Regions from separate parts of the Homo sapiens genome. Here region 2 is linked to region 1. The links come from fine-mapping of genetic effects on gene expression. A gene starts in region 1. The other region holds a variant in brackets. All regions are shown on one strand. Distances are between the middles of the regions.

The links.
Region 2: its variant is fine-mapped to the expression of PITPNM2 in fibroblasts (GTEx, PIP above 0.99).

What each region holds. Positions count from the first base shown.
Region 1 is chr12:123,148,991-123,154,225 of GRCh38, forward strand. PITPNM2 (phosphatidylinositol transfer protein membrane associated 2) reads right to left here and starts at 2,100. Exons shown (of 26, transcript NM_020845.3): 1 at 1,763-2,100. MPHOSPH9 (M-phase phosphoprotein 9) reads right to left here. Exons shown (of 24, transcript NM_022782.4): 24 at 5,225-5,235. RefSeq lists silencers at 1,654-1,743, 1,844-1,983, 2,004-2,263, 2,284-2,483.
Region 2 is chr12:123,122,371-123,127,605 of GRCh38, forward strand. All of the region lies in intron 1 of PITPNM2 (phosphatidylinositol transfer protein membrane associated 2), which reads right to left. Among named protein-coding and RNA genes, the nearest start is that of PITPNM2, 26 kb to the right of the region's middle. The variant A/G (reference allele first, on the strand shown) is at 2,558.

The sequences.
Region 1 (5,235 bases):
AGGGTATGAATGAAATGGTAGGAGAGGAGGCAGAAAAGGTAGACAGGACCCAGATCCCAGGGGGCCTTAGATACGCAGAGGAATTCTTTCAGATTCCATAAGGTGCAACCAAAACCAAGAGAAACCAAGTGACTTAGTTAAGCTCCTGTAGCAAGTTATGGGAAAAGCCAGGCCTGGAACCCCAGTCTCTCGACTCCCGCAGTCCACTTCTCTCCCCTGCTGCCTCCCACGCCTGAGCAGCTGGGGAAGACCAGGAGAGAGAATGGCCCATTCAACACTCACTACCCAGAGAATCTGGAGTCTTTGCCTGGCCATCTTCAGGGCAGAGGATGTACTGTCCTGTTCACTTGGCAAGCCACTCCTTACAAGAAAAACAGCCCTTCCTAACTCATTGTGTTTCTCTCTGCAGTGGGAGAGGGCTGGAAGTCCATTCCAACCACAGAATACAGTCCCTTCATGGAAGGAAAGTAATTTAACAGCAACAGTCCAGGAATCAGACAAGCTATGGTCCCAGAGGCAAGCGTTGGAGGGGCCTTCTGCTCCACGGAGACACTGACTCCACGCAGGGTACTGACCAGGGCAGGAGACCAGAGATGAATCAACTCCAGCCCGGGAGCTCACCGTCCAGCAGGGGAGATAAGGCAGATGGAAAAGTAACTATAAAATAAGGCAGACGGTGATAAGAGTTACACAGGAGATACAGATAGCAGGCAGTGGGAGTTCAGAGCAGAGAGGAGTCTGGGGGATGGATGTTAGGGGAGATTCAGATGAAGGGGAGCACTTACTGCCTTCCCTCCAGAAGTGGGGGGTCTATCCTAGCAGCTCTGGTCACTCCCAGGTGGAGGCCGGGGAGAGAGCTGGTTGTGGACAAAGACAGATGTTCCAGTGAGGTCTCCTTTGAAGAATCCCGACTCTGGGTGGGGGAGGCAGGTAGGCCGGGGTGTTTGGAGAGGCACCCAGCCCACACTTCAGTGGGAGGGAGAGGAGTGCAGGATGTCTCTGCAGGAGCAAGTCGGTGGAAAGGGGACAAGCCTGGAGGACTTGCCTTGAAATGACATTTGCACCGCGCGCACTATGTTCACCTGGAGTGGCCGTTTGGGATTTCTTGCGGGGAGGCAGTGCACACTGGGGCGGGGGACACTGAACTTTCCCTCTCCCCAAGGCCCCCCGATCAGCCCTGCCACGGATAAGAAAGGATTCGGGGTGGGAAGAAGACAGAGCCGGCACCCCATTACCACACGAAGGGGGCACTGAGGATGGAGACGGGCCACACCCCAACCCTGGGCCCCCGACAAGCAGAGGCCACGGCCCGGGCCTGGGGACGTTCAGCTGGAGGCGGGAAGCAGAGAAGGCGGGCCGGGGGCTCACCTCCGCTTCCTCCCGATAGCCCCTTCCTCGCCCTGGCACCGGCACTGCCCACGCCTGCCCCCCGACCGCTATGACACTTGTCCCTGGCGGGGGTCCCCCACGCGGTCGCGACCGACGGAAATTCGGAAATCAGCGTTTCGGGCACGGATCCAGGGCCGGCGACTCACTGAGGCCAGGCTCGGGCGGTCTCCCGAGCGGGGCTCCCGTACGCCACACCCTCCTCCCTGCCCGGGTCTCCGCTCCCTCCTCCAGCCCCCGGCGGGCTGGAGGCTCGGCGGGCGGGCGGGCCGGGGCCTCTCTGGGAGCCGCCGCCCAGATCCCCAGGTCCCCGGCCAGCGCCCGGCACTGCGGGACTCACCGCGGGCCTGCGGAGCGGCCGCCCGGACGCACTCACCCCGCTCGGCGCGGCCGCGGGCTCTGTCCTCTTCGGGGCCCCGGCTGGGCCGCCGCCACCTCACGCCGCCTCACGGGGAGCGCCCGCCCCGCGGCCCCGGCCCGGCCGGCTGCGCCCCGCGCGCCCCCGCCGCCTGCTGGCCCCGGGCGAGCGGCAGAGCCCCGGCGGGCATTGCTCCCGAGCGTCGCAGGCGGGCGGCGGCGGCGCACGTGCTGGCGGGCGGCTCTCGCTGAGGCGGCCGCGAGCTGAGAAGGAAGCGCCGGGCGGGCGGCCGGGGCCGGCTGGACAGCTCTACGCCGCGGCGCCGCGGTGCCCCGCGCACCCCAGCGGCCGCTGCTGCCCGCGCGCGCCGGGCCGGGCTCGCATTCCCTCAGTGGCGGCGGCGCCTCCTCAGGCCGCGCGGGGGAGCGGCGGCGGCGGCGGCGGGGGCGCGTCCCTGCGGAGTCTCGGCCCGGCCCCGCCGCCTCCGCCGGAAGAAACCTCTCCGACTCGGGCAGCCCGCCTGGTTCCTCAGACCTGCCGCGGCGACCCCGCTCCTCCCCGGCTCGCCCGTGTCCTCAGGGCCCGGGACTGGACTCGGGGGCGGCGGCGCGGATCCCCGCCCCGGGCTCCTCGCCCACCGTCCGCAGCAGCCGAGCGCACTCGGGGGCGGGAACCGGCCGACTTGCGGCCACTGTGACTCTTAAAACAGCCTCATTTTAAAAAATGAAGTTTCTTAGGAGCGAAATGGTAAACCAGGGAGGGCAGAGCGCAGCGGGCAGCTCACCGAAGCCCAGCCCCGGGCGCGGTGCTCGCCACACGGTGGGTCCGCGCTCTCCCCTCAGGACGCCCGGGCCGCGGCCCAGGGAACGGCAGAGCCGGGAGCGCAGCCGTCCCGGTCCCCACCTCAGGGAGTAGCTGGAAGAGGATCACGAACAGTTTAATCCGGATGATCTGGCACGACAGGGCTCTCCAATGGGAAGAGCCCCCGGTGGGGGAGCGCCTGGTGACATTCCTTAAAAACATGAGGTGTTTGTTAGGTTGAGCCAGGGTGGACTTGTTTGGCAAAATCTGAAGTCATGGAACTAAAGAGAGCACACCTAAAACTTAGTGATGTGTGACCCATCCCTACTTGTCACCTTATAAGGCTGAGGAGACGGCGGTGCTCCCCTGGAGGAGAGAGGACAAGCTAAAATTAAGGCGGCCTAGATGACTCCAGATGAAGCCGGGGAGGCCGAGCCCCTGACAGCTGCTCACCTCCTGGGGTCACGGCAGAACCCAACTGAACGGGCCAGGAAGGCCATCGTTCCCGACTCGCCTCCAGGTGCCCCTGACCATGACCACGCAGAGGAGGACCAAGGCGTACCACCATCACCTAGAACGCTTCAGCTCCTTCCCTCCACCAAGAGGTGCCCTAGGATCCATCCAGAAAGATCTGCGGAGCCCACAGAGTCCCAACGGGAACTGTGCTCCTGGATGGACGCCCCTTAACCCATAACTCAAGGACTTCTCTATGCCTGGGACTTAAAATCACCAACAACCCGCTCCTGCAGCCAGCTAGCAGAAATAAACACACAAAGGCCACACGCCAGTTCACAGCCACAAGTATTTATTGAGTGCCTGTAGTGCAAGAAAGAGAGATGGTCCCTGCTCCCGCGGAGCTTACAGCTTCACGACTCCAGCATCTGGCTAGATTCAGAAACAACTGCAGCAAGCACTTGTCTACCCACCAGCAGCACTGTAAAAAGCACATTTCTCACATTATCGGTCACTGTTACAGTGAAATTGTTAGATGTAAAAATTATCCTTGAAATCTGTAGTCATAGAGATGACATGGTACATAATGTCCAGCAAATGCACATTTATGGCTTGATTCCTCACATATCTGAGGGGTCTATGGAAATAAAGTACAAATCAGGCAGAAAAGACTTAGTAACACAGTTCCTAAGAATACTGGGGTAGTAGTTTATTATCAAACTACCATAGAGCTCTTGGCAGGGCAGGAAATTATTTCCAGCAAAATTTGTGCAATATAGTGGATTTAATCAAACCTGCAACTGTCAACCATACATGGTCCCTCATGACAGGTAAATATAATCTACCTGTCTGAATGGTAAAAGGCTACAGGTGTGCATTTATTTTTTAAAGCTTCTTAAAGACTCATAGCACAAGTGGCACATTGAAATCTAGTGAAAACTTGAGATAATCTAAAAATTAAAGTGACAAAAGTGTCTAATTTTACTACATATGTAGGTGCAGAGTTCAGATTTCAAGTAGCGTCCAGCAAAGCACGTGGCTTTTCTGGGCGAGAAGGGGATAGCTTTTGGTTGGCTATCACAGACTCCACCTACATCTCCTAACACCCACTGGCAGGCACTTCCTGTGCATGGTTCTGCCCACAAGCTGTCACCTTTAGATGAAACATTTGAAGGGGCAATTATTTGGAGGATACTGGCAATAATTTTTAGAAAAACAACCTATATTTATACCAAATAACCCCCAAGTCACCAATTAAGACCAAAGTGCTTTCTGAACTTACACGTGACAGGTTATCAAATTTGTTAAATTTTTGGTGGCTAAAAAACCAAACACACCAGAGGGATGCTTAATTTAAACTCCAAAAAAGCTCATTTTTTTGCAAAGCGTGAAGAGAACATCTTAGACCACCTAACAAATGTCAGTCCAAGGCAGTTTTTAGGTCAACTGCTTCGGACATAATCTACTTTTTTATTTCAGAAAGTATGCTACCTCAAGGCTGGGCGCAGTGGCTCACGCCTGTAATCCCAACACTATGGGAGGCCAAGGCAGGCAGATCATTTGGGGTCAGAAGTTCAAGACCAGGATGGCCAACATGGTGAGAACCCCGTCTCTACCGAAAATACAAAAATTAACCAGGCGTGGTATGCACCTGTAATCCCACCTACACGGGAGGCTGAGGCAGGAGAATAGCTTGAACCCAGGAGACAGGTTGCAGTGAGCCAGTATCACACCACTGCACTCCAGCCTGGGCAACAGAACTAGAGACTCCATCTCAAAAAAAAAAAAAAAAAAAAAAAAGGATGCTACCTCAAAAACCTACTTAACTCAATGAATCTGAAATATAATATTTCTTGAGCACTTACTAAGCACCAGGCACTTTACAAAATCTCCCTTAATGAAAGGAGTTTTCTTATTTCATCTTATAGCTGAGAAAGGCAGGCCTGTGCCAGGATGTGACCCAGGTCTCTCTGGCTCCAAGTCTCTCCTTTCTTGTCCCCTGAGCCCAGCTCTGCACAACCCTAGCACGGCCACTTTAGCTACATCTGTTGCTTCAGTTGGAAAAGTCCTTCAGTTGCAAAGACCATTTCCATACCTCAGGAGTAGCTCCTGCAAACAGAGGCTTAGCAAGGGAAAGGAAGGGGGCAGATCCAGGCATCAGGGGAGAGTTCACTTTCTATTTGCATTTTAAAAGGCACTTCCCAGAGGTGGCAGATTTGCTTAGGGTTTTTTTTTTT
Region 2 (5,235 bases), 27 kb before region 1:
AGAATCGCTTGAACCTGGGAGGCGGAGGTTGCAGTGAGCCAAGATCGTGTCATTGCACTCCAACCTGGGTGACAGAACAAGGCTCCGTCTCCAAAAAAAAGAAGAAAGAAAGAAATGACGTCAACTTACAGATCTGGGAAATCCAAGTCGCAAGCCTGTTGATAGGCCTCCTGGTCACATCTGAGCTCCCCCAAAAACATAACCTCCCTGAAGGTTAGCTTCTGGTGTTTCTCAGATACTCGGTGGTAAACAAGCTGACAGAGAAGGGGCAAGGTAGCTGCTGCCCCCACCCTTTACCAGGAACATATCTTCCAGACCACAACCTGACTACAGGAATCCAAAAACCCAAGAGCCCCTCAGTCGTGTGCAAGCTGGCAGCTAATGGGAATGAACAGTCTTAACTGGCTATGCCAGGAACTACCCTACAGCCTGCCCTTTGCGGTAGAAAAGGCTCTCACACAGAAGGAGTTTTCTCCAGATTTTTATTTTACTTAAAAGCTCTTCCTTGCCTGGGGTTTTGAGGTTGAAAACCACTGCCTCGCACTCACACATTGTAAGTGGGAGTGTAAATTGGTACTACCTTTATGGAGAGCAATTTAGCAATTGCTAACAAAAATAAAAGAAAAACACTCCTTGACCCAGCAATTCTACTTCTGGAAATTTATTCTACAGACATGAGAGTATATTTGCATGAAAACCTACTTATTGAGATGCCTGCTACAGCACTGTTTGCTTCCCATCTTCTGCTCTTACAATCTAAAACCCCATCAACAGGGACCTGGTTTAACACATGATGGTCCACCCATGAGCAGAATACTAAGCCCACCATTACAAGAACTGAACAACTCTACATGAGCCAACAGAGAACCATCTGCAGGATTTATGTATTGTGAAGTCAAAAAAGCAGATGCACAACAATAGGCAGCCATTTGTGTTTAGCTTTGTTTTTAAGTAATATAGGCCAGGCAAGGTTGATCACACCTATAATCCCAACACTCTAGGAGGCCGAGGTGAGAGGACTGCTTGAAGCCAGGAGTTTGAGACCAGCCTAGCCAACATAGCAAGACTCCATGTCTACAAAAATAAAAAAATTAGCCAGGTGCAGTTGCACGTGCCTCTAGTCCCAGCTACTCAAGAGGCTGAGGCAGGAGGACTGCTTGAGCCCAGGAGTTTGAGGCTGCAGTGAGCTATGATCACACCACTGCTCTCTAGCCTGGGTAACAGAGCAAACCCTCTCTCTCTCAAAAAAAACAAAAAAAAATTAAATTAAATTAAATTTTTAGGCCGGGAGCATTGGCTCATGCCTATAATCCCCACACTTTGGGAGGCTGAGACAGGTGGATCAATTGAGGCCAGGAGTTGGAGATCAGTCTAGCCAACATGACAAAACCCCGGCTCTACTAAAAAATACAAAAATTAGCCAGGTGTAGGGGGACATTCCTGTAATCGCAGCTACTTGGGAGGCTGAGGCACAAGAATCGCCTGAACCCAGGAGGCAGAGGTTGTAGTGAGTGGAGATCGCACCACCGCACTCTACCCTGGGCAACAGAGCAAGATTCTGCCTCAAAAAAAAAAAAAAATTAAAATTTAAAATTTAAAAAGTGGCCAGGCACAGTGGCTCACACCTGTAATCCCACCACTTTGGGAGGCCGACGCGGGCAGATCATGAGGTTAGGAGATCGAGACCACCCTGGCTAACACGGTGAAACCCTATCTCTACTAAAAATACAAAAAAATTAGCCTGGCGTGGTGGCAGATGCCTGTAACCCCAGCTACTCGGGAGGCTGAGGCAGGAGAATCGCTTGGACCCAGGAGGCGGAGGTTGCAGTGAGCCCGAGATTGTGCCACTGCAGTCCAGCCTGGGCGACAGAGTGAGACTCCGTCTCAAAAAATAAAATAAAAATACAAAATATTAGCCAGGCATGGTGGTGTGCACCTGTAATTCCAGCTACTTGGGAGACTGAGGCAGGAGAATCACTTGAACCCATGAGACGGAAGCTGCAGTGAGCCAAGATCACACCACTGCACTCCAACCTGGGCAACAGAGCGAGACTCCATCTCAAAAAAAAAAATTAAAAAGTAATATACATTAATATATACAGAGAATCTCTCTGAAAGAGGACACACACACAAAACTAGCAACCATCACTGTCTCTGGGAAGGAAAACTAAGATATTGAAGACAGGGGTGGCAAGAAGTCTTTTTTATTATTATTATTATACTTTAAGTTCTAGGGTATATGCACAACGTGCAGGTTTGTTACATATGTATACATGTGCCATGTTGGTGTGCTACACCCATTAACTCGTCATTTACATTAGGTATATCTCCTAATGCTATCCCTCCCCCATCCCCCAACCCGGCAAGAAGTCTTATGTTTGCCTGTAGCTGCTTTTCACTTCGGTACCAAGTATAATGCATTACTTACTTACCCAAATAATATTTAAAATATATATGATCTTTATATTTTATTACTGAACTGTAATCTATGAGTTTGTAAGTTCCATAAGGAATGTATCTAATTTATCTTTAGAATCTTGCTAATGTCTGGTGCACT[A/G]TCATGCATAGCCTTTTCAATGTTTCGTTAAAAAAATTTTTTTTATTTTGAGACAGAGTCTCGCTCTGTAGTCCAGATGGAGTGCAGCGGTGACATCACAGCTCACTGCAGCCTTGATCTCTTGGGCTCCCTTGATCCTCCTGCCTCAGCCTCCCAAGTAGCTGGGACTACAGGCATGTGTCACCATGCCCAGCTAATTTTTGTATTTTTTTTGTAGAGATGAGGTCTTGCCATGTTGCCCAGGTTGGTCTCAAACTCCTGGGCTCAAGCAATCTGCCCACCTCAACCTCCCAAATGTTAAATGTTTTTTAGTAAGTGAAAGAATGAATGAGTAAATGATTCTAAAGCACTCAAAAAACAATGTTCTTTGAATCCTAGAAAATTGTGAGTCTTGAATTGTTAGAGAAGGAAGAAGTTAGGTAGAAGCAAAAACAAATAAATAATTGATATCTGGATACAAAAAGCAGACTCAGTCATATCAAAGGATGATGCACACCACTGATGGTTCATTTAAGTTGATGCTACAGATTTAACAAGAGTTTTTAAAATTTCAATTCTAATTATTTTATGTTTTAAAATGCCAATATTTAATATTTCTTTTGGAATAGCAGAACGCAAAGAAAATGCATGGTACAGGCCAGGCGCTGTGGCTCACGCCTGTAATCCCAGCACTTTGGGAGGCCGAGGGGGGCGGATCACGAGGTCAGGAGTTTGAGACCAGCCTGACCAACAAGGTGAAACCCCGTCTCTATTAAAAATACAAAAATTAGCTGGGCGTGGTGGCAGGCACCTGTAATCCCAGCTCTCAGGAGGCTGAGGCAGGAGAATCGCTTGAACCCCAGAGGCCGAGGTTGCAGTGAGCCGAGATTACTCCACTGTACTCCAGCCTGGGCGACAGAGCGAGACTCTGTCTCAAAAAAAAAAAAAAAAATTAGGGTTTTTTTTTTTTTTTTTTTTTTTGAGATGGAGTCTCGCACTGTCACCCAGGCTGGAGCGCAGTGGCGTGATCTCGGCTCACTGCAAGCTCCGCCTCTCAGGTTCACGCCATTCTCCTGTCTCAGCCTCCGGAGTAGCTGGGACTACAGGCACCCGCCACCACGCCCAGCTAATTTTTTGTATTTTTAGTAGAGACAGGGTTTCACTGTGTTAGCCAGGATGGTCTCAATCTTCTGACCTTGTGATCCGCCTGCCTCGGCCTCCCAAAGTGCTGGGATTACAGGCTTGAGCCACCATGCCCAGCCTAGGCTCTACCTTTTAATCCTGTGACCCTCATATCCCTAAAGAATCAGAAAGAAGATCTAAAAACCAAGCAGACCCTTCAGTGAGTTGAATATAACTGCTAAGGGTTCTGCAGGGATTGATGCATATCCTTGGGTAAGCTTGGGAATTCTTGCCCTATTAACCTCTCACTCTTGCCCTACTATTCTCCACAATCCAGTCTGGCAAGCAAGCTGACTACAACTCCCACCATTTAGAAGAGGGCCAACTTGCAGATCAGACCACCAAGCTTCAGGCGAAAAGCTGTCACAAAGCTGGAGGGCTTTAGTCCTAGGAGAACTGCACACTGACCCCTCTGGTGGTCATGCAAACCACTATGGTTAAAATAAGGCAGAAAATTAAAAGTAGCAAAACCACACTGAGTGAGTAAAGAAAAAGAACTAGGGAGGAGGGAGGATGACTTAGGAAGTATGGCCAGCATGATGGGTTCAGCCTGTGGGACAGCTGGCAGACACACATCCATCCACCCCTTCCGTGGCCTCCGAGAACAGCCTGATTCATGACATTGGAACTTCAGCTTCATCATGGTAGCCCCAGTCAGCTGAATGACTCAGCAATCCCTCAAAGACTGAATTATCTCTAGGGTTCTCTGTTGATTGAAAGAGAGGCAAGAATTGCCTTTGAGAAAGATCAGGATAATGACTGGGAAAATGTGATGAAGCTTGCATGAATGACAGCAGTGATGAAGCAGTGTCTGTTCTCTGGTTTCCAGCAGGAGCAAAAGATTTACTTCCAACAACCAGGCTCTGTTCACTGGGGTCTCGTCCAAACACTGCCCTCAGCATGGTGGTCTAGGGGATGCCAGGGCAAGGGACCACAAAGCTACAGGGAATTTCTGAGAGCCCTGCCCTTGGAGAATGCACGAATGGTTCATCCCTCCTCAAGTCACATCCATCATCCAGGATGAGTTGAGCTTGAAATAATGGACTTCCAGGCTCTGTGACAACGACTTAATGGTGCACAAATGTGTTCAAAACATTCTGGAAGAGTCCTCAGAATAACCCCACTGAGAGATGCTGAACACCCTGCATCACGCCACTTACACCGCTGCCCTCCATTTCCTGGGAGTCCAGGTCGCAGGGGACCCAGGAGGTGCTGGCAGCTGCCTGAACTGTCCGGGTGTTACTCTTGTTTCTAACCAGAAAATAAGGTCACTGGCGTGTTGATGCCCAAGCAAACAGGTGTTAGAGGTGCTCCTACCCATCAAATTCAACAATGGTTTCCACTGACGCATAGAAAAACAATGGTGTTTGCCTACTTATTTTGCAACAGGCTGCCATACTGTCTTATTCTAATTAATTTTGAGTTTGTCTACTTTGAAAACCTAAGACAACGGCTGTATCCACTCAAAACATTCATTTTGCAACCTCCTATCTGAGAGTTATGCCCTGCCTCTTTTT